Regions from separate parts of the Homo sapiens genome. Here all the other regions are linked to region 2. Evidence: fine-mapped expression QTL. A gene starts in region 2. Each other region holds a variant in brackets. All regions are shown on one strand. Distances are between the middles of the regions. Region 1 overlaps MAP3K5 (mitogen-activated protein kinase kinase kinase 5). Region 2 holds the start of MAP3K5 (mitogen-activated protein kinase kinase kinase 5). Region 3 overlaps PEX7 (peroxisomal biogenesis factor 7).

The links. PIP is the estimated chance that this variant, and not a neighbour inherited with it, causes the effect.
Region 1: its variant is the best candidate, but not a certain one, in a credible set for the expression of MAP3K5 in thyroid (GTEx, PIP 0.71).
Region 3: its variant is the best candidate, but not a certain one, in a credible set for the expression of MAP3K5 in whole blood (TOPMed, PIP 0.53).

The regions. Positions count from the first base shown.
Region 1 is chr6:136,596,413-136,604,594 of GRCh38, reverse strand. It overlaps MAP3K5 (mitogen-activated protein kinase kinase kinase 5), which reads left to right. Exons shown (of 30, transcript NM_005923.4): 20 at 2,616-2,793; 21 at 3,553-3,573. Among named protein-coding and RNA genes, the nearest start is that of MAP3K5-AS1, 29 kb to the left of the region's middle. The variant T/C (reference allele first, on the strand shown) is at 3,614.
Region 2 is chr6:136,788,414-136,796,595 of GRCh38, reverse strand. It overlaps MAP3K5 (mitogen-activated protein kinase kinase kinase 5), which reads left to right and starts at 4,119. Exons shown (of 30, transcript NM_005923.4): 1 at 4,119-4,886. The coding sequence starts at 4,439. RefSeq lists enhancers at 3,039-3,118, 3,489-3,548, 3,659-3,888, 4,679-4,748, 4,854-5,369 and a silencer at 3,909-4,548.
Region 3 is chr6:136,838,763-136,846,944 of GRCh38, reverse strand. It overlaps PEX7 (peroxisomal biogenesis factor 7), which reads right to left. Exons shown (of 10, transcript NM_000288.4): 4 at 1,253-1,330; 5 at 764-872. Among named protein-coding and RNA genes, the nearest start is that of PEX7, 20 kb to the right of the region's middle. The variant T/C (reference allele first, on the strand shown) is at 4,637.

The DNA of each region.
Region 1 (8,182 bases), 190 kb after region 2:
AGATCTGGGGACTGAGCATGGCTATGACCTGCATCTTGAATCCCTGCAGTCCTCCGCTGCCAGACTGCCAGGCCAACAGGAAGTTTGAAATGGAAACATGCTTCCCAAGTAGTAAAACTCACACATCTGCTACTTTCTAAGGCAGAGGACTTAAAAAAAAATTATTTATTTATTTATTTATTTTTTGTGCTCCCCTGTGGGATCCAAGGCAAAGGACTTTTTCTTTTCTTTTTTTTTCTTTTTTTCTTTCTTTCTTTCTTCTTTTTTTTTGTGGAGACAGAGTCTCGATCTATCACCCAGGCTGGAGTGCAGTGGCGCGATCTCGGCTCACTGCAACCTCCGTCTCCTGAGTTCAAGCAATTCTCGTGCCTCAGCCTCCTGAGTAGCTGGGATTGCAGGCACACACCATGACACCCAGCTAATTTTTTATATTTTAGTACAGACGGGGTTTCACCATGCTGCCCAGGCTGGTCTCAAACTCCTGAGCTCAGGCCCTCCGCCTGCCTTGGCCTCCCAAAGTGTTGGGATTACCGGCATGAGCCACGCGTTTGGCCTGAGAGGACTTTTGATGGTAATTGTTATTCCTCTCCCTGCTGCAGACCATGTTTCTAGCTCTTATTCCATCTGTGCATAGCCTCTTGTGAGGGGCCATGTGTTGTTACAGACCTTCTGCTTTTGTGCAAAGCTTGGCTTTATGCTTGAAGACAATCTGATAGGACACTGCTGGTATAAAAATGAGTAGTGTGACCAAACCTCAGAGAGCAATGGCAGGTGCCAAGAGAGGTGCCTTTCTTGCCATGAGTGGATGTCTTTCTCTTCTTGGCCAGTCTTTCAGGTTTTCTCCAGTGTCTAGGACTTATCTGAAATGCTGCTTTATAATTCACGAATGCAATGATTATTATACCATGTGTTTTTTTGTCACATTAGGCCAGTCTAAGCTGTGCACAGGAAGTTGCTATCTTAGAGAGATGACATGACATAGACTGTGGCACCAGTTTACAGTGTTTGAATCCAGGCTCCAACATGGTCAAGATATTTGAGACTTTGAGCAAATTATTTAACCTGCTTGTGCCTCAGTTTCCTCATCTATAAAATAAGGATAAAAATAGTACCTGTCAGCCAAGCGTGGTGGCTCACACCTATAATCCCAGCACTTTGGGAGGCTGAGGCGGGCAGATCACCTGAGGCCAGGAGTTCAAGACCAGCCTGGCCAACATGGTGAAACCTCATCTCTACTAAAAAAAAAAAAAAAAAATTAGGGGGGCACAGTGGCAGGCACCTGTAATCCCAGCTACTTGGGAGGCTGAGGCAGGAGAATCACTTGGACTGGGGAGATGGAGGTTGCAGTGAGTCAAGATCGCACCACTGCACTCCAACCTGGGCAAAAAATGAGACTCCATCTTAAAAAAAAAAAAAAAGTACCTGTATAATAAGAGCTTTTTGAGGAGTGTATGAGGTAAAATGTACCAAGCACTTAGAACTGTGTCTGACACATGGTATCGGCTATATAATTCTTACAAATAATTATATATTGTTTATATTACAATGAATTTACATAAGCTGTATAAGAACAAAAGGATTTCCTTTGAAAATTTGCTCTGTACTAAAAAATGAAAATACCATTAATTTTTTTTAGAATAGCAGTAATAAGTAAATTCTAATTGTTATAAAAATATTGTTTAATTTTAAAGTGCTTTTAAATATCTCTTTTAATGCAGGTGATTTGAGACAGGGAAGATATTCACAAATCATGTAATAGGGAAAAGAACATAGGCTTTAATCCGAACAATTCAGGTTCAAATCCCAGATCTCCCTTTTCTTAGCCTTGTTACCTCATCCTTTCTAAGCCTTATTTTCCTCATTGGTGTAACAAGGAAAATATTTAATCCGCTGGATTGTTGGAAGGATTTGATGAGATCTGTAAGTGGAGAAACCCCAGCACAATGCCCAGCACTTAGCTACTGTGAGCAACGCAGTGGTCTCAGCTCGGTGGCTGAGCATGGTGGCTCGTGGCTGAAATCCCAGCACTCTGGGAGGCTGAGGTGGGTGGATTGCTTGAGCCCAGGAGTTTGGACCAGCCTGTGCGACATGGCAAAACCCCATCTCTACAAAAAGTACAAAAAATTAGCCAGGCGTGGTGGCATATGCCTGTAGTCCGAGCTACCTCAGGAGGCTGAGGTGAAAGACTCGCTTGAGCCTGGGAGGTCGAGACTGCAGTGAGCTGAGATTGCACCACTCTGCACTCCAGCCTGGGTGACAGAGTGAGATCCTGTCTCAAAAAAAAGAAAGAAAGAAAGAAAAATAAAGATCCTTTTTGTGTGCCAATGTACCAATATGTTCTAAAGCTTTGAAGGACTAAATTATTACTTCATAGTGCTGCCTACTGTCTTCAACTAATTATTCTGCCTGTGCCATTGGTAAAGGTACCAAGGCACTCTGTTGATCTTCTATAACCTGCAGCAAACACATCTTATCTCCCTTTGAGAAAAGCCATAAGTTTGTGTTGTATGATAAGGGATCTTGTTGCATTGGGGGGTCAAGTTATGGAAGCTGGAGTTCAGGTGCTGAGATGTTCACTCAGAAGGCACATTGCACTTTTTATATTTATGTCTTAGGTGGGAATGTTTAAAGTCCACCCTGAGATCCCAGAGTCCATGTCTGCAGAGGCCAAGGCATTCATACTGAAATGTTTTGAACCAGATCCTGACAAGAGAGCCTGTGCTAACGACTTGCTTGTTGATGAGTTTTTAAAAGTTTCAAGCAAAAAGAAAAAGACACAACCTAAGCTTTCAGGTATGTGGTTGCATTGAAGAGGATATAGTCTGAGTCCTTCAATCCTAAGCTTTTAAGATGGAAGAATTTTCCGGAAGTAAACTAACCTGTTTACAGATATCACTGGAAATTGGTATAAATATTAGCACAGTGTTCTCAGGCATTTGGTTGCAGTATCAGGGAGCTGTATTCCATCAATTTCACAAGTGCTGGGACCTCATACATAATAGTCTTCAATCACATAGTTAGTAGGTAGTTAATATGTCACCATCTATATCACTCTAACATTGTGGATACTAAGGTTCAAGTGTAAGAGGGGTTAAATTTAGCCTTTTAGAGCTGAAACCCCAGATTACCACAAATGGGCCTACAGAGCCATTATAGAGCTGTTGGATTTCCAAGCCCTGTAGGTAATAGGTTCTTTTAAGGCAGTAGAAAATACCTGTTGCCTCTTAGGGTATATACTTCTGAATAATTACACCCAAAAAAAGGCAAGAAGGAAAAAGAAAGAGAGAAAAGATTGCCAGCTATAAATAAAACAGTAGTGTAAAAATATAAGTACATTATATTTTTGCAATAATTGTCTATAACTCAGAAAAAAAAGTAAAGGTTCCAATTGTTCTTGGCGTTTTTTGATGTTTATATTGGAGGAGAATGGGCAGATTGAATGTTTGGAAAGGACATTGACCCCATTTCAGGCATTCATTTTTTGTTGATTTCTCAGTTTAACAACAAACCCAGCACGTGCTTATTCATGGCTGTTTGCTTTTCTTTCCACAGCTCTTTCAGCTGGATCAAATGGTGAGTTTGTTTTTACTTTGCCCATTGAGCTGAGACCTGG[T/C]GTCTGGTGTGATAAACTCCAGACTTCCCATCAAGTAGCCTCATGCTCTGCTCCTGGCTTACATGGGGGGAAAGGAGGGTGCGGTACTAGATACTATAAGGATGTGTGCAGCTGCAAGCCTGGCTGGGCTTATTCCTTTGGAAATCCTTCATCTTTCTCTTTCATGAGTGGGGATGGCTTAAATTTTTTCTCCCTAAAAGCAAGATGGTGACTGTGTTTTTGACAGCTTCAATTTGAGTGAAGTAAATGCTTCTTTATCTAGGAACCAGTTGACTACCTAATGTATTTCTTGTGGAAAATGTAAATGCCAGATACCTTCCTCTGTCATCTTTGGGGTGATACATTCTATTTTTAGTGGCCAGGAGTTATTGTGCCTTTGTTTTCTAACGTTGGCTTTTGCGGATCATAACTAGGAAGGTAGAGAAAGTAGATTTGCTCTAAGAAGATCCATTAAAGCATTTAGAAGAATAATAAAGAAATGAACATGAGGCTGGGCATGGTGGTTCACGCCTATAGTCTTAGCACTTTGGGAGGCCGAGATGGTCAGATTGCTTGAGCTCAGGAATTCAATACCAGCCTGGGCAATATGGTGAGACCCCCATCTCTACTAAAAATACAGAAAAATAGCTGGGTGCGGTGGTGCATGCCTATGGTCCCAGCTACTAGGGAGGCTGAGGTGGGAGGATCGCTTGAGACTGGGGTGGTGGAGGTTGTAGTGAGCCGTGATTATACCACTGCACTCCAGCCTGGGTGACAGAGCGAGACCCTGTCTCAAAAAAAAAAAAAAAAAAAAATTAACAGCATGGTGTTGGATTTTCCTAAGTTGGATGTGTGGTTGATCAAACAGTTCAGGGGGCTTAATGTTCATTGTGCATGGGTTCTGCAGGCCAAGGGCAGGTTTTTGCAGGTTCCTCTGATGCCCCAAAGCCAGTCAGCCCAGAGTAGAGGCCTGTTAATTGGGGTTTCCTGGGTACAGCCTCTCTACTTTTTCTTCTTCCATTTCTTCCATTCTGAGAATCTGGGGAAACTCAGAAGAAGACAGGCACACCCTTGTACCTCTTTTCTCCACAGACAGCCTGGGCTCCGGAAGGCAGCCTTGCATTGTCACAAAGTCGGCCCTGCAGTGCTTGGCAACCTTCTGACCAGCCTGCTTCTGGTGTCCTAAAATGGGCACTGACTTCAGAATTACACAGAAGTGGGTTCTGATCCCATTGACCCACTTTCTAAATATGGGACATGCATATTTCTTCTGTCATTCGGTGCTGGTAACATTACCTACTTCACAGATTTGGTTCTGGGAATAAAATAAAATAATATCCTAAAAGAGCCTTGGAGCTGTGCCTGGAAGTTTAATCCATGATTGTTTTATCCCTTCCACATGGCTTGGTTTTTGTTCGCAGGAAATAGTTTCCCATCACACACACGCATTTAACTTCTGTGAACTCAACCATACACACTTGGCAAGAGCGTGCATATATGAGAGAGAGAGAGAGAGAGAGAGAGAGATCCTTTAAGTGGACAGTTCTATGTCTTCTCAGTGACTATGTACCTTGGGGTGAGCGTGAGATGGACGGTGTAAACCTGCTGAACTCTAGTCAGTCAGGTTCCCACTGCCCTTTCGCCGTTCTTGCTTACATATGGACTTGGGCCTAGAAAAAGGGGCAGTCCCCAATTCCCTGCATGATTAAACTGTTCAGACTCTCAGCTAAAACAATATCATTACATGGATGATGTGCCTCCTCCCTCTCCTTCCTAGGAGAGCAGGACAGATGTGCTAACCAAATTAGGAGCTAAAATCCACGCCCCCCCCCCCTTTTTTTTTTGAGACGGAGTCCTAGGCTGGAGTGCAGTGGCATAATCTCAGCTCACTGCAACCTCTGCCTCCCAGGCTCAAGCGATCCTCCCACCTCACCCTCCTGAGTAGCTGGGACTGTAGGTGCCCACTACCACGCCCAGCTAATTTTTGTATTTTTAGTAAAGACGGGGTTTCGCCATGTTGGCCAGGCTGGTCTGGAACTCCTGGCCTCAAGTGATCTACCACCTCGGCCTCCCAAAGTGCTGGGATTACATGTGCCACCATGCCTTGCCTAAAATCCCATTTGATTGTTCCCAGGTATTATAGGAAATGGCCTGCCTCATGTCAATTGAAACAATGACCTATTAGCTCGTCTTACTCTCCTTCTAGATGAGTACAAGATACAGGCCTCTTCCTTCCCCAGGTACTTTCTATAGGCCATATATGTGTTTCTGTCCAGAGCACAGGCCCACCTCTCAAGGTTCTCTACCTCCCATAACTGCACTTGGCTTCCCCTCAAGAGGGGAGTAAGAGGGTGGTGACAATGAGACCCCCTTCCCCTTTAGAGAGGGACATGACTTGTCTCATCCTGACTGCTCTTCCATGGCCACACACAGACCCAGAGATTTAAGTAATTCATGTCAGCTTAAATATTAATTGTACAGTTATGGTGTGCACAGGAAATGTGCTAGGCCCTGAACGTATAAGGATGATAAAGACAGAGTTCCTGATTTTAAAGAGCCATTGACCTTATAGGAGAAAAACACTGGAAAAAATCATCTCCACCATAGTATAGTTTAGTCTGTGCAGAGGAGTCAAAAGGGAGAGACAGTGACTGAAGTCAGTCTGAGAATGCTGTTTCAAGGCAGACTTTCCAGTGAGGTGCACCTGATGAGTAAGGACAAATATGAACTTAACAGGTGAATGGGGAGTGGAGATCCAGGTGAGGCGACTTCTCGCATGAGTTAATGCCAGGATGTGTGAAACTTTACTGTGTGTTAAGGGAGGCTTGCTGGCTCAGCAGCACTGGTGCTTAAAGTAAAAGGGGAGGGATGATGCTGGAGTGGGGAGCAGGCTCAGATCCCAAAGGGCTCCTTATGAAATGTTAAGGAATCAGCAAGGAGGGTTGGGGAGCCGGGGAAAATTTTTATCTGAAATAATATTATAGACCAGCACTGGACCTATGATTCTACAGTAAGAGAAATGTCATTTATCTGCCCTGTCCAATACATTAGCCACTAGTCATATGTGGCTATTAGACACTAAACATGGCTACCATGGCTGAGGCACTGAATTTTTATTATTTAAATGTCAGTGTTAATAACCATATGTGGGTAGTAGTGACCATATTGGACAGTGAAGCTATTGATGGATCATTCCGATGGCTGTGTGAGGATGGTTTATTTAGTAAGATTTATTCCATAACATTTTTAACCCTCTGCTATGCACTTGGCACTAGAATGTAGGCACAAGGCACTAGGAATATAGCTATGCCTCAGTTGGTCCCAGATCCTGCCTGCATGGATCTCTTGCAATGCTTGTTAAAAATTAAAATGCCTGGCCCTTCTCAGAATCTGGAGGTGCAAGCTGGAATTCTGTACTTTTAAGTAAACCCAGATGATTCTTGTCATCACTGCAGTGTGAGAACCACTATTCTATGTTTGGCCAGTTGGAGACTGGAGGCAGGATGGCCAGTTAGGAGACTCTGTGTTGTGGCCAGACTGTTCCTAAACTGTCTAGGAGAAGGAGAACCATAAAGATCCCTAGTGATCATGAATAGCTGTTAGGATCTGAGGCCACCCTCACAGCAATGGAAGGGATTTAGAAAATCCCCGTTTTCCCAAAGCAGGAATGTATCTAATTCCTTAAAGGTCGCACTGTCTCCCTTCCATAGATGGGAGCTCCCAGCAATCTGGAGTCCATAGGGTTGCCAGTCACCCCTCCTGACTCCAGCCTACTCCTGGCCTCTTGGTAAAGCTATCTCTTAGGGGATATGGGGCTCACACCCCTTCCCATCAGCCCCTGAAATAAGGCAATGAGAATCATCTCCTTAGAGACACACCTTTGACATGTCCTATCCTCAGAGAGGTTCATTCAGCCTCTTTTAGACTCTTCGTGGTCAGCCCCATAGAGGAGGGCTTCTTAATACCTGGCAAGATATCAGCAGTAAGGCTGCCTGTGACTGGAAATCCTGCCAGGCTCCTCTCTTGCAGCCTGGGGTCCCAATCACTCACGTGTATGAGCTTATGTTCGAGGAACTTGTAACCTCTGTGATATCTGGAAACTGTCACCGTGCTCCCCTGGAAATAGTTACACTTGAGCTTCTTCCCATTTACAGTGACACAGAAAGGCACTACGCATTCTCACTTGCCTGGAAATCGTCATAACTTAAGAAGGTAGAAATCTCAGGCGTGGATTTGATCATATTTCCACCACAAACGTATAAAGCAAACTGTCTCAGCACCACCTGTCTTGCTCTTTCCACCCCTTACAATAGAGAAAACATCCATTTTCCTACAGAAGGCCAATCCCTCACAGATGAGTTCTGGCTCCTGTGGAGCCCCCGTGACTCCTCCAGCTTCTGCCTCTCCCAGTGAGTTCCATATACACATGCTCTAATGTCTTTTGTCCTAAACCCGTCCTTCCCCTGATCTACAAATGGCCTCACTGGCTGACACCACCACCTTTTTTTGCCCCACATCACAGCTTCCCGTCTTGAAGTACAGTGTCTCCAGATCTCCACCTCTTCCTTCCCACCCATGTAGCGTCTCCCC
Region 2 (8,182 bases):
ACAGTAACCCAAACAGCACGGTACTGGTACAAAAACAGACACTCAGACTGATGGAACGGAGTAGAGAACTCAGAAATAAAGCCGTACACCTACCGCCATCTGATCTTCAACAAAGTCGATAAAAATAAGCAATGGGGAAGGACTCCCTGTTCAATAAGTGGTGCTGGCTAGCCTTATGCAGAATAAAACTGGACCCCTACCCATCACCATATACAAAAATTCACTCAAGATGGGTTAAAGATTTAAATGTAAGACCTCAAACCCTAGGAATCATAGAAGAAAACCTAGGAAATACCATTCTAGACATCGGCCTTGGGAAAGAATTTATGACTAAGTCCTGAAAAGCAATTTGCAGCAAAACGAAAAACTGACAGACGGGACCTAATCTAAACAGCTTCTGCACAACCAAAGAAACTATGAACAGAGTGTGGTGTTACGATATATATTGGTTTTCATCTGTGGTTTCTGGCTTGTAACTCCCATAACCCTCGTTATAGTCTTCTGTTATGTTGAGTGTGTTAGGCCTCAGAGGCAGGCCTCTAATTTTTTCCTGCTCTCCTTTTACCTGCTAACAACCCCCCACCTTTCTGACTGTGGGTCTTAAGACCTTCCCAGGAGAGGGTCCCATTGGATACACATGGACATAAAGATGGTAACAACAGACACTGCGGACGGGAGGGAAGGAGGGAGCAAGGGTTGAAAAACCAACTGTTGGGTGCTCTTTCTACTACCTGAGTGACAAGAACAATCGTACCCTAAACTTGAGCATCATGCAATATATCCATGTAACCTGCACATGTACCCCCGAATCTAAAATAAAACTTGAAATTACTTTAAAAAAAGCACTATTTTGCACAGCTCAGTGATTTTTAGGAATTCATGTGTGCCTTCACAGTGGGAGTGACTGTGCTCCTCCCAGAGTATTTTCTTCATGTACTTCTTCAAATACCTCCTACACTTCAGAAACTTCTCCAGATTTTCTTTATACCCTTCAACCAAAACAACATGCTGCAACAGCATGAATGTAGAAGCAGAAATGAGAATCCACTGTCATCTATTAAGCCAGACATTAAAAAGATTTGTGAAAATGCACAACGGTGTCACCATTCTTTTTGTTTTGTTTTGCAAAATACCGTTATTTTTCATTAAAAAAATTCACTTCAGCCTTTCAGCTGCCTAATTCAGATCCACAAAAATCCCACAGCCAAAGGGAACCCTGACTGTAGACTCACCCTCTGGATTCCTGTCCTTTCTTCCAGAATCTTGCCAGCTAGTTCCTCATTATCTCATAACCCTATGCTATGGAACATAAATTACCTAAACCGTGCCTTTTAGGTAGAGGGAGAATCTCTGGACCAGCTAGAAGCAGAATTTCAACATTGTATTGGGGTTTGGGTGCCTAACATAAAAAACATATTTAAAGTTAATAAATCAAAAAAGCCAGCAAAGTAAAACAAAAAATAAAAATTGTGTATGAAAATGGCTCTGAAAGGATCTGGAAGGAAAGCACAAAGTGAGAGGGTATAAAAAGTTACAGCTTTGGAAAATAGCTTGATATATAATTTCAGATTTTGTATTTCTACAGTAAAATGCTACTTGAGCATTTAGGCGTTTTAGTTTTCCACACATGAACCTCATCGATTTCCAGAGTTTGTGGTTCTTGGTGAGGATAGCGGGGAGGATTATCTTACTCCTACAAGGTTTTGGAGGTTTGACAAGTTGTTGAAAATATTAAAAGGCACATAACTATTACTAGCTCAGCAACATTTTGTTTCAGTATAATCACTGATTCACTACCTATTTTACTATTGATATTAATTCCAAAAGCTAGTGTGGGTCACATAGATTCCATTTTACATGAAGAATATAAAGTTTCCTTACTAGAAATTTACTTCTATTATTTTATACACCTTTAGAAAAATCTAATGTCACATTGATTCATTGATACAGTTGTGTAGCGGCTAGGTGTTTTTCCTCATGACTATTTCCTTCCTTCCTTTAATTATTATTTTTTTTTAAGATGGGGGTCTCACTATGTTGTCCAGGCTGATCTTGAACTCTTGGGCTCAAGCAATCCTCCCACCTTGGAGAAAATTAAAGAACTCTTTCCTTTAATTCTTTTTCTTTTTCTTTTTTTAGATGGAGTCTCGCTCTGTCGCCCAGTCTAGAGTGCAGTGTCGCCATCTCGGCTCACTGCAACCTCCACCTCCCGGGTTCAAACGATTCTCCTGTCTCAGCCTCTCGAGTAGCTGGGATTACAGGCGGCTGCCACCACGTCCAGCTAATTTTTGTATTTTTAGTAGAGACGGGGGTTTCACCATGTTGGCCAGGCTGGTCTTGAACTCCTGACCTCAAGTGATCTGCCCGCCTCGGCCTCCCAAAGTGTTGGGATTACAGGCGTGAGCCACTGCGCCCAGACTTTCCTTTAATTCTTTACTATTCAGCTATTTTATCCTTCCTTCTTACCCAGTTTGAAATGTAATTCATGGCTGGGCTGGGTGGTTCACGCCTGTAATCCCAGCACTTTGGGAGGCCGACGCGGGCATATCACCTGAGGTCAGGAGTTAGAGACCAGCCTGGCCAACATGGTGAACCCCACACCCCTCCCCCTCCCGTCTCTACTAAAAATACAAAATTAGCCTGGTGTGGTGGCGCATGCCTGTAATCCCAGCTATTCGAAAGGCTGAGGCAGGGGAATCGCTTGAACCCGGGAGGCAGAGGTCGCAGGGAGTCGAAATCGCGCCATTGCACTCCAGCCCGGGCAAGAAGAGCGAAACTCCGTCTCAAAAAAAAAAAAAAGTAATTTACATTTTCTTCTGCCTTTTTCACAGGACTCACTAGTCTCAGTTCCTGGAGATGGGAAGTACAAAACCTGTTTCTTTACTCAGTTGTAACTTGCACTGGCTTTCCTAACAATTACAGCATTCTGGGGTTCTCTGGGAACTTACACATCTGTTCTTTGCTCCCCAAATAAGCAGGTACTTTTTTTGATTGCTCTTAAACAATCTGGGTATTTCCCTCCCGGCCTCGCGTGATGCAGTTTAAAAAATAGAATAGGTCACGTTATTCCCCTGTTTCATCTTGTTGATAATTTGTGGAGTCGGGTAGAGACTCCATCTTCTATCTTAAGTATCTGGCGCTTGTGGGGGAATTAAGATCCTAAATGAGAATACTAAGTCCTTCGGCAGTTGGCACTAATCAATTACTCATTACTGATAACGGAATGAGCCACTGGAAATTTTAAAAGGAAAAGTACATGGGAGAACCTGATCAATTTAGCCAGCCACTTCTGGAGTGCCACAGTCACTAATGAAGCAACCTCCAGTGCAGGCCCTGGCTCCAGGGCGCTATGTACAACCTCCTGCCTCGCGCAACGTGGGTCTCCCGGAGCCTATCCTGCCAGCGCCGCGCACGGTCCCAGTCCACCAGGCCGCCAAGGCCCGGAGGGGGGCGCCCTAGTCGCGGGGAACACTGGAAATGCTTCAGGGGCGGACTCCGAAGACCGAGTATTGCCTCGAGGGACTTTCTGCGCCACCCCGTAATCGCTTGCGCTCCAGGTCTTCGTAGGTGGGGGCCGGGTGGGTGAAGACTGGGACCCTATGCCACGCGCAGCACTCAGAGGAGGGCTGGGGTCCCAGGGCCGCAGCGCGGTCAGTTCAGTCCGGGCTCGAGCTTCCTAGCAGCGCCCTCCTTGGGGGCTGGCCCTGACCCTCGGTGCCGCTACGAGTGGGTGGCCAGAAGCTGGTGGTGGAGAGGGAGAGCGTCTGCAAGGAACGACGAGGCTGGCGCCGGGACCACGCGGCGGAGGCGATCGAAAGAGAAACGAGGCCAGGCAAGGAGGAGGAAATCCACCCGATGAAGGCGAGCTGCCGCCTAAGAGGGAGGAGGGTCCTTTCGGCTGCCGCTGCTGCTGTTCCGGGACGCCGCCTGGGGAGCCAGCCCGCTCGTAAGGTGCGCGCCAGGTAGCTCCGCACCCAGGGGGCGCCCTTCCTGGCCCCTCCCAGAGCGGCCGGGACGGAAGGAGCTGCGCGGCGCGGCGCGGCGCGGCGCGGCGGGTGGCGAGGGCGGGCTGCACCCCGAGCGCGGCGCCCTTGAGCTGCACCGCGGCGCAGGTTTGCGAGCCGACTTGTCAGCCGGCCAAGAAAAGGAAGCTCCGTCCCTTCCCGCTCACCCGGCTTCCCCACCCCTTGTACTCTAAACTCTGCAGAGGGCGAGCGGCGCGGCCACGGAGGCGCCGAGGAGGAGCGAGCCGCCGCCGGGCAGCGGCGTGCCCTCGGGGGAGAGGGCGCCGGAGAGGAGGCGGCGGCGCGGCGGCGAGGGCGCGGCGCGCGATGGCAGCTGCTTAGCCCGGCGGGCGCGGAGCAGCCCCGAGCTGTGGCTGGCCAGGCGGTGCGGCTGGGCGGGGGACGCCGCCGCCGTTGCTGCCCGGCCCGGAGAGATGAGCACGGAGGCGGACGAGGGCATCACTTTCTCTGTGCCACCCTTCGCCCCCTCGGGCTTCTGCACCATCCCCGAGGGCGGCATCTGCAGGAGGGGAGGAGCGGCGGCGGTGGGCGAGGGCGAGGAGCACCAGCTGCCACCGCCGCCGCCGGGCAGCTTCTGGAACGTGGAGAGCGCCGCTGCCCCTGGCATCGGTTGTCCGGCGGCCACCTCCTCGAGCAGTGCCACCCGAGGCCGGGGCAGCTCTGTTGGCGGGGGCAGCCGACGGACCACGGTGGCATATGTGATCAACGAAGCGAGCCAAGGGCAACTGGTGGTGGCCGAGAGCGAGGCCCTGCAGAGCTTGCGGGAGGCGTGCGAGACAGTGGGCGCCACCCTGGAAACCCTGCATTTTGGGAAACTCGACTTTGGAGAAACCACCGTGCTGGACCGCTTTTACAATGCAGGTGCGTGTGTGACCCCTTTCCCATCCCGCGCGGTCGGGACCCGCGTTTAATCTGGCGGTCTTCGGGGCATTTCATTTTTCTGGGCGGGAAGCATTTACTTCTTGCCCCACTTTGGGGGCAGCGAGCGCCGCTGCGTGACTGCTCCTGTCGCTCGCCGCTCCGGAGAGAGCGTGTGTGCTTGTGCAAGAGTCTGTGTGTACTTGTGCGATAGACCTATGGATCCACCCACCGCCCAGCGCTGGAGCCCTGGGTCCATGCGATCGACTTGAACTGTTCTCCAGCAGTGTGAGATATTTGCCCCAGTCAGTCTTTCTCCTTTCAGTGTCTCGGTTTCGCTTCTGTGAGGTTTGGTCCCTGTTTTCTTTCTGCATATACCTGTGACCGTTTTAGATGAGGTTCTCCTTTTCTCTGTGTAGTTTTGAGAGTACGGGAACGATGACATACCATGCACGCAGAGTGTAACTATATTAATTTGCATGCCATGTGATGATCTTCCCAACTCACCTTACCTTCGATAAGTTTTAGTAGCTTGAATTTCCTCTCACCAACCCAGACTTTGAAGTAATTACAGTGCTTCCAAAGGCAATAACATTACAACTTACACTGAACTTGTGTGTTATCTTTGTAAGGATTTTGGTGAAAGAACCAGGGCCTGTTTTTTATTACCCCATAAACCATGGTGGGCTAGAAAGTTTGTAATTTAACATTGTCTAAAACACCTGTATGCTATCCTAATAATAAGATTAGTTTCGCCATTAAAGTGATTGCTAGCATAATCCATGAAAGAAATGTATCTTTCAACCTATCTCAAATTTCAGAAAATGTTAAGGCAGTTCTAGTAACTGAAGCACTTAGCTGTTAGCAAATGTTAGGAATAATACCATATTATGGAAATTAACCTTTAGTCCCCTGTACGTCCAGTGTTGAGAATATATACATATTTATGTTTACATTTGTGGGTAAAAACTTGGTTTAGTAGTTTCAAAACAATACACTTCTTGCATTTGTGATCACATAAAAGGCTTTATTTTCCAATCTTGTTTTCAATTCTGATTCTCTTTAGTGTCTTCCAAACACCTGAAGTGGGCTTATGTCAGTTTTGGAATTCAGCCAAAGCTGAATATTTTGAGAACAACAAGACCTTCATGTTAAGGAAGCCAGACTAAATAAACTAGGACTTTCTCGTTCTGGTATTTTTAAAATAGTTTTGGTCTTCATAACTGAGCATGGCTATAATATAGCTTGATTCTTTGGGTAGCTTGCTATAAAAGTTACATCAACATAACTTTTCTAAAAATTGTAGCACTCTTATTTTTGGATTATAATTTGGAAGAAACTTCAAAGAACTAAAAGATATGAGAGGAAAATACCCAACTGAACACTTGAGCCTATTTTTATTGCACTGATTGGGCGTTTTTTTCCTAGGGCTCTAGAAAAAAAATGTTAAACTCTAAGCTAATTTGAAAGAAACTTTCCTAACAAGGCTTGGTTTCTGTTATTCTCCAAATACTGTCTCTGGGAAAGGGAGAGAGAATGATTAGAAGGGAGCTGAAGTTTGAGTGTATTTCATTGAATCCTCCAAACAAGCCTGTGAAGGAAGTACTTACCTTCTTAGGTGAGAAAACCCAGGGATCCCTAACTGGCCCTAGGATTCATAGGGAGTAAGTGGCCAATGCAGGATTCCACTTCAGGTGGCTGACCCTAAAAGGTTGTGCTTGGGCCAGGCGTGGTGGCTCACGCCTGTAATCCCAGCACTTTCGGAGGCCAAGGCGGGTGGATCACCTGAGGTCAGGAGTTCCAGGCCAGCCTCCTGGCCAACATGGTGAAACCCTGTCTCTACTAAAATGACAAAAATTAGCCAGGCATGGTGGTGCACACCTGTAGTCCTAGCTACTCAGGAGGCTGAGGCAGGATAATCACTTGAACCTGGGAGGCAGAGGTTGCAGTGAGCTGAGATTGTACCACTGCACACTCCAGACTGGGTGACAGAATGAGACTCTGTCTTAAAAAAAAAAAAAAAAAAAAAAAAAAAAAGAGGTTGTGCTTGGCCCTTGCTTCCTCCATTTAGGTGGGCTGAGTTACTCTCAGAATCAAGGGAAGCTCCCTATCTTGGAATCATGTGAGTGAGCTGGCAAAGATCTTACCAGGCATTTAGGTGTGTATGGAATAGTGGGGAGGGCATGCTCTCGGAAGCCTCTTTTTCCTGCGCCCACTCTGTCCCTTCGTACTGCTTCTTTCAACCTAGACAGGTCTCAGTTTAACCCCTGCCCATCTGGATGGCATGAACTCCCAGGATGAGTGCCCTCTCAGTCAGCATGAAAGCATGAAAATGTGACAGAATGAAGGTAGTGCATCAGTTTTATCCAAACCCTTTGTTTCTATTTTATTTTATTTGTTTTAGAGACAAGGTCTCACTCTGTTGCCCAGCCTGGAGTGCAGTGGCATGATCATGGTTCGCTGCTAGCTCGAACTCCTGGGCTCTAGTGATCCTCCTGCCTCAGCCTCCCGAGTAGCTGGGACTACAGGCATGAGCCACCACGCTGGGCTAATTTTATTTTATTTTACTATGTTTTTTTTGTAGAGACGGGGTCTTGCTATGTTGCCCAGACAGGTCTCAAACCTGGCCTCAAGCAGTCCTCCTGCCTTGGCCTCCCAAAGTATTGGGATTACAGGCGTGAGCCACCGCACCCAGCCTCCCATCTTTAAGTTTACTTGTACCCAATGTTTAGCTCCCACTTATGAGTGAGAACATTCAATATCTGGTTTGGTGTCTTTTTGGTAGAACAATTTATTTTCCTTTGGGTATATACCTAGTAATGGGATTGCTGGGTCGAACGGTAGTTCAGCTCTTAGTTCTTTGAGAACTCTCCAAATTACTTTCCACGGTGGCAGGACAAATTTACATTCTCACCAACAGTGTGTAAGTGTTCCCTTTTCTCTGCAGCCTCGCCAACATCTGTTATTTTTTGACTTTTTAACAAAAGCCATTCTGACTGGTGTGAGATGTTATCTCATTGTGGTTTTGATTTGCATTTCTCTGATGATTAGTGATGATGAACATTTTTTCATAAGTTTGTTGGCTGCTTGTATGCCTTCTTCTGAGAAGTGTCTGTTCATATCTTTCGCCTACTTTTTAACGGGGTTATTTGTTGTTTTGCTTGTTGATTTGTAGACCTTTCTTAAATGCGTAGTTTGTGAATATTTTCTCCCATTCTGAGGGTTGTCTTTGTACTCTCTTAATAGTGTCTCTTGTTGTGTAGAAGCTCTTTAGTTTAATTAGGTCCCATTTGTCATTT
Region 3 (8,182 bases), 50 kb before region 2:
AACTAGTTCAACCATTGTGGAAGACAGTGTGGCGATTCCTCAAGGATCTAGAACTAGAAATACCATTTGACCCAGCCATTCCATTTACTGGATATATACCCAAAGATTATAAATCATGCTGCTATAAAGACATGCATATGTATGTTTACTGCGGCGCTATGCACAATAACAAAGACTTGGAACCAACCCAAATGTCCAACAATGATAGACTGGATCAAGAAAATGTGGCACATATACACCATGGAATACTATGCAGCCATAAAAAAGGATGAGTTCATGTCCTTTGTAGGGACATGGACAAAGCTGGAAACCATCATTCTGAGCAAACTATTCCAAGGACAGAAAACCAAACACCGCATGTTCTCACTCATAGGTGGGAAGTGAACAATGAGAACACTTGGACACAGGATGGGGAACATCACACACCGGGGCCTGTCATGGGGTGGGGGAAGGGGGGAGAGATAGCATTAGGAGATATATCCAATGTAAATGATGAGTTAATGGGTGCAGCACACCAACATGGCACACATGCACACACATGTAACAAACCCGCACGTTGTGCACATGTACCCTAGAACTTAAAGTATAATAATAAAAATAAAAAAATAAAAATAAAAAAAGAAGTAAAGTCTTAAGAACACAAAAGAATAGTAATATTCTCCTGTTTTCTCTCTGAAGCTAAGGTACACAGCGCCACCTAATGGTAAAAACAAGGCCACCATTCACTACAAGTAAGGCTTTTGGTAAATACAGAATAATTTACCTGAGGCTGAAGCAAAACAACCAGGGATGTGGGGAGACCAGATTGTGCTATAAATAATACTTTCATGGCCTCTAAAGGTGCACAGAGACTTTCCAACAGTTGGATCCCACTACAAATAAATGAATAGATCAATTACTTGAGGGATAAATTCAAATTTATGCTTTTACATATACTACATACACCAATAAACTATATACATTTATATATATGCATACAATATATATACAGATCTCAAGGATTTTTAAAGATCTGTTTTGATATAAAGCAAGACTGTATTTAAGGGCCAAACTAATGCTGAGCTAACTATTAGTTCACAGCCAAAAGATTAGAAAATTTTAAGTTCTAATAAGTGTTTTAATTTTTTTTTTAAAAGAAAGCTCAGCTGTCGAATCATAGAGCTACAGAAGTATGTTGGAAAAAGAGAAGAAAATTTAGTGGAAGCTCTAGAGAAGGGAATATTCGTTTTTGAATACAATAATGCTAACATACCAATTTGACAGTTTGATCCCATGAGCCAGACACCACAAGCTGTTCACCTCTGGTTTGGCTCCAATCAACACTATACACCTAAAAACATTGAAAAGTGTTTAGAAAGCAAAAGACCATCAAGTTCAACATTGCATTTTATCTCTTGTTACATAACAATGAGAGGCAGAACAACTAATTTACTATGTCAAAACATCAAATAATTCCTATCCATCTCAACAAGGTGTCTGAGAAATGAAAAGTTGATCTTGTCCATTCCTCCAGACTTATTCCTTACAGATAAGACTCCATTCTGCTTTCACAGAATTCTACAGTATACTTCCAAACCTTCTTCACTAAAACAAATTATACATATTTTAAAACCTACCAACAAATCACTGTTTGCAGCCCCACGAAGAAATGTCAAAGCAGATTAGAAAGTTAGTCATCTAAAAAAGCTTGCTGGGTCAATGTTTATTGGAAAGCATTAAAATTCAATTAATATCCCTATCTGGCCTTTCTTAGAAAAAGCTTGCAGGAACCAGGTGATCCTTCCAGATCTCTTGGTAAACAGTTTTAGTTATCCAATGCTGCTATTCTAAAGTATATGCTTCACTGCTCTCAGTGAACCATTTCAAATGAACTACTTGAAAACTTTTGGAAATGTTTTCATTCTTTCATTTTATACAACAGATTATACACAGATCACTGCTGTAAACTAAGTTCAACAAAATATGTGCATAATTATACTTTATGAAATTAGTCCTGACAAGGACCTGAGTATATGCCATTGGTATATCACATTGGTGATCAGCCAGCAGGTTACTTTGAATCTTACTACTCTCTCCCACATATACGTAGGAAGTATGAGTATCTGGGCTTAAGCCGCTTACATGTGGGTTACTTTCTCTCTGCTGCCCAGTACTATATTGAGCCATGTTGGAGGCTGAGGAAAAAAAACATCAGTAATACTGATCCCGTCACTTATAGGTGGAATCTAAAAAAGTCAAACTTAGAGAAACATACAGTAGAGTAGTGTTTGCCAGGGGCTGGGGGTGGGGGAAATGGGGATATGTTGGTCAAAGGATACAAACTTTTAGTTATAAGATGAATAATTTCTAGAGATTCAATGTACACCATGGTAACTATTATAAATAATAATGTATTACTGAATACTTGAAATTTGCTGAGAGTAGATCTGAAATGTTCTTATCTCACACACAAGAAAATGGTAACCATTCAAGTGATGGATATGTTAATTAGCTTGACTGTAGGAATCATTACTCAAGATATATTTAGATCAAAACCCTAAGCTGTACAACTTAGATTTTTCTTTTTTTTTTTCCAAAACAGGGTCTTGCGCAGTCGCCCAGGCTGGAGTGCAGTGGGCACAATCTCAGCTCACTGCAGCGATGACCTCCTGGGCTCAAGCGGTCCTCCCACACCTCAGCCTCCTAAGTAGCTGGAGTCACGCTTGCGTGCCACCACACCCAGCTAATTTTTTTCTTATTTTCTGTAGAGACAGTGTCTCACCATGTTCCCCAGGCTGGTCTCAAACTCCTAGGCTCAAGCAGTCCTACCGCCTCAGCCTCCCAAAGTGCTAGGTTTACAGGCATGAGCCACCGTGCCCAGCCTACAAATTTTTATTTGCCAATCATAATAAACCTGGAAAAAAGTTTAATAAAATTAATATTAAGCTTCAAAAAAAGTAAAATATCGATATTTTGTTCATAATGGGTTTTTTGCATTAATTTTTATTTTTAAAAACATTAACAAATTATCTTGATTATCAAGTTTTTTGGGGCCCCCTTAAATTGTGTACCTAGAGTGAGTGCCTCACACATTCTACCCTAGTCCTGGCCCTGCCTCTGCCCATATTCACGCAAAAGACAGAAGAGTAGTTGGAACACTAAAGGAAGCACAATCCAGCAACAGACAGCAGCTATAAAAGGAATAGAAGGGCCAGTGAAAACCAAAGAGCTGCTGTGGCCATCTGTTAGTTATGGATAGAAAAAAGGCTGGTTTGGAAGCAATCACTGAAGATCTTGAGAGCTAAAGAGTTTGATTTTATCCTCTAAATTTCGCCTACAAAGGACCATATAGTAAATGGTAAGTTTCTTCAAAAAAGGTACATTTCTTCTATAAAGGGCCATATGGTAAATACTTTAGATTTTACAGGCTATTTGGTCACTGTCACAACTACTAAACCCAGCTCTTATAGCACACACCAAGCAGCCATAGTCAATACCGAATGAATGCGCATGGCTTGATTCCAAAAAAACTTTATTTGTAAATCTAACTGCAGGCCAGATTTGGTCCTGGTCCACATGACGTAGTTTGCCAACCCCTGCTCTAGGCTGATGTAAACAGTCAAAAATAAAAATAGCAAACCTTTATTGAACACTCTGAGTGTCAGATCCTGTTCATAAGCACTTTATGTATTTTATTTCATTTAATCTTCATTTATATGAAGTAGATACTATATCAAGGCCCAGAGAGGTTAAGTAACTTGTCCAGAGTCCCAAAGCTAGTAAGGTGCAGATATGAAATCTGAACGTGGGCAGCCTAATTGCAGAGTCCACTTTTAATCGCAATGTGAGGCTATCTGTACAGCATGCTACTTGAGGGCACTGTTGAATCAGAACTTCTTGGCTACCTTAAGCCATGATATCAAGGAACTAAAGCTCTACCCCTGCTGGTTTCACCCTTTACTGGAGCTACATTTGGGCCTAGATTGATTCCACTGTGTTTTCATGAATTACCTATACACAGATCTTAAAGCCCCTCTCCACTTGTGAATTTCCATTTATCCATCAAGACGTGCCCCATTACATCCCTTACGAAATAAGCCTCCCCTGATAAGTCCTTCAATGAGTCATATGCTGCCTTCAACAGCAGCTCACACCTACTTCTAACTCAGCATTTACCATATTTTATTTACTAAAAAGAATGTTACATAACTCACATACCTGCTAGATTTTGGAGACTCCTAATGAGCAAAACATCTTGTACATCTATGTTCATCACAGTAAAATAGGCACTCAAACATTGGTTAAAATAATTTAACCAATTAAATTTTTCTTTACAACCTGAATCACTGCTAGGTAGGTACAGAGAACTACTAAGTAAATACTCATCATCAGCTCAGACTCCACTGCCTCCACACATTTCCAGTGTGATGCAGCAGGTGACACCTTATGACTACTCACCTTCTAAAACTGCAGGAGCCTCCACCGGCTCAAGAGAATCCAGCCTGAATCAACATCAAAGATAGAAGGTAAGAAAACCATGCTGATGGCATTGTTGCTGTCAGCTGTCTTCTGTTGCACAACCAAGTAGCAAGCATTAGGTCTCTATGACAGAGCTAAAGATAGGACACACATGGTGGTGAAGTTAAAAATGGGATCA[T/C]AAAGAAGGAAATAGGCTGAGTGTGGTGGCTCACGCCTGTAATCCCAGCACTTTGGGAGGCCAAGGCGGGCAGGTCACTTGAGGCCAGGAGTTCAAGACCAGCCTGGCCAACATGGTGAAACCCCGTCTCTACTAAACATATAAAATTTAGCCAGGTGTGATGGCAGGCACCTGCAGTCTCAGCTACTCAGGAGGCTGAGGCAGGAGAATCGCTCCCAGGAGGTGGAGGTTGTAGTGAGCCAAGATTGTGCCACTGCACTTTAAGCTGGGTGACAGAGTGAGAACCTGTCTCAAAAAAAAAAAAAAGAAAAAGAAAAGAAAGGCAACTCAATACTATGTTTAAAATATTAGGACATGGGAAAGGAACTAACAGATCAGGAGACTGTGTGGGTTTTTTTTTTTAATTTAAAAAAAGAGTAATTACACCAGGCACGGTGGCTCATGCCTGTAATCCCAGCACTTTGGGAGGCCGAGGCAGGAGGACCGCTTGAGGCCACGAGTTCGAGACCAGCCTGGAAAATATGGCGAGACCCCCGTCTCTATAAAAAATTTTAAAAATTAGCCAGGTGTGGTGACCTATAACAGTAGTCCCAGCTACCCAGGAGGCTGGGGTGGGAGGATGGCTTGAGCCCACAAGGTCAAGGTCAAGACAGCAGTGAGCAGTGATCACGCCACTGCATTCCAGCCTGGGTAGCAGAGAAAGACCTTGTCTCAAAAACAAAACAAAACAAACTATAAACATAAGTACAAAAGGGGTGCTTGGATGGAAATTCAGCTTCGTGCTCAGAAGAGAAAGACTGAGGCAGGGCCCTGAGGGCTGGCTAAAATGTCAATAGGCAAAAAGCAGAGGTGAAACAGTAACCAGAAAACTTCCTCAAACACATAAATGGGAATATACAGCACCCTAGGGATCGGGGGTAGTGAACACTGCAAGATAACACCAAGGTTTTGTGCCTGAGGACTGTCAGTGATGGCAGCATTAACAAAAGTGAAAGACTGGAGGAAGGAAAATAATGTAATTTTATATATACTGAGTTTGAGGTGACAGCAAGACAGGGTTTGGGCATTAACCTCAAGCTCTGAAAAAAGTTCACAGCCAGAGAGATGTTTGAGAAACAGCTGAAAAGGGAAGAATGAATTCCATTATCCCAACTTCAATCAATTCACTCATCTATTCAACAAATATTTATTGAGCACCTACTATGTACTAGGCACGGGGGGAAAGGAGGTTACAATTTTAGATAAGACCAGCCCCCATGGATCTTATATTTTAGCAGCAGCAAACATGCTATAAATAAATGTATAATTTCAAGTTGCAATTTTTTTAAAAACTACAAAGAAAAAGCAGAGTAAGGAGAACAGAAAATAATGACAAGGGCAGGGGGTCACTTCTCAACAAAATGGCCAGGAAAGACCTCTCTGTGCAGAGACTTGAGTGCAGTTAAAGACTGAACTCTGCAGACCCGAGATGAAAGGCTCAGGTTACAGAGAACAGGGAAAGACCTTAACAGGGAACAAGCTTGCCAGATTCAGGGAAGAGCAAGGTTGAATAGCTGGGAGGGATAAGATCCTAAAGGGCTATGGCTAAGAATTTGTCTATGATTTCTCTTAAGAGGTTACAACCATCAACCATAAGTTACCACTTAGATTATAACATCCTTCTAACTGCTCTCCCCATCCATTTTTGTTTACCTCCAATCCATTATCCACACTGCATAAAAAGTAATCTTTAGAAAATACAAATTAAATGTCACTCCCCTGTGCAAAGCCTTTCAGTGGTTTCACACTATATGTAGCTCCAACTTAGCATCTTCGCTCAACATTATGTGAGATTCATCCATGCTGATTCTTACTACCCAAAGGTCAAAATCATGCAAAACTATGCATGACTTAGGGATGCATACATATGTAGTAAAAATAGAAAGAAAAGCAAAAAATATATAAATAGAAAATTCAGGCTAGTGGTTACTCCTGGGAAGAAGCGAGGAAGAAAAAAAAGCAGAGAGAAGAACGATAAGACTAGAAAGGGTAAGCAGGGGACGCTAATGGTATAGGTAATGTTTCATTTCTTAAGCTAGATGGTGAATATGTGTGTTCAATATACCATTTTTACATCTTACATGTATTTTATAATGTATAAAATATTTCATTGATTTTTAAAATCTGCAATGTCTTTCCACTGATCTTGGCACAATGGCCAAAACGCTGACAGCTCTAAGCACACAGGCTCTATCCTCTCTGGTCAAGCATGCTCTTTCATTTGCCTCTAACACTACTACCCTGGCCTCTCCACTTGAATAATTCATTCCAACTTCCCCTTTAGACCAAAGGATGCCCTCCCTGCCCCTTCCCCAGACAAATCCTCCCTTCCCATAACACTGCATACATTCACAGCGCTTACCACATTAGACATTAGACAACCAGAATCCTGCCTCCCCAGACAGTGCAAGGACCCCAGGAGGGTAAGGGCATGCCTAAGGTGTTTTGTCTTCCCAGCTAGCCTGGTACAGTATCTTGCACACAGTAGAGTTAATAAAAGTTTCTGGAATGAATGAAGGAAAAGAGAAACAAATCTGAATGAAAAGCACATCTTCTATTAGTCTCCTCTTCCATCTCTTCCTTATTCCCAACCTCCCCGTCCACACCCACTCAAATAGTGGGCATGGCAAATGGTCAAATTAAATATAAAAAGGAAGAGAGATATGCAGTGCCTGACTTTATGCTTTAAGAGCAGGGTCCTCTAGAGGCCTATCTGATTAAATTACTCTTGGCAGTGGTGAAGAAAATTAACCAGGAAAATGGGAAAAGAAAAAAACCCACCGCACAATGTTTTGTGCTGCTTTATGAAATCTGAACCTCATCAAAACCACAGTTTGAGAGGACAAATTTTATTACTGAAACCAATTCCCAAAGAGCTCATATTTAATCTACTGTAAAGCATTGCCCTTTTTAAGTTGGTCTACTTAATTAAAAATTGTCAAATAAAAAACTATGTCCAGAATTTTTATTATTATCTGTATGAATACAAAGGAAAGGGTCACTGACTTTTAATTACTGAGTGATTAGAAAGGGCTATATATTTCTTTTAAGGTGAAACTTAAATTTTCTCTTTTTTTTCTCTTTTGAGACAGGATCTCACTCTGTTACCCAGGCTGGAGTGCAGTGCCACGAACGAGCACAGCTCACTGCAGCCTCCACCTTCTGGGCTCAATTGATCCTCCCACCTCAACCTCCCGGGTAGCTGGGACCACAGGTGCACACCACAACACCAGCTAATTTTTTAATTTTTTGTAGAGACAGGGTTTTACCATGTTACCCAGGCTGGTCTCTAAATCCTGGGCTCATGTAATCCCCCTGCCTAGGCCTTCCAAAGTGCTGGAATTACATGCATGAGCCACCATACCCAGCCCTGAAACTTAAATTTTCAGGTTTTTTCATTACGGAAATTTTAAAACATGCATAAAAGTAGAGAGAATAGTATAATAAACCCCCAGGCACCCATTACACACCTTCCATAATAATCAACATGTTGCCCATCATGTTTCT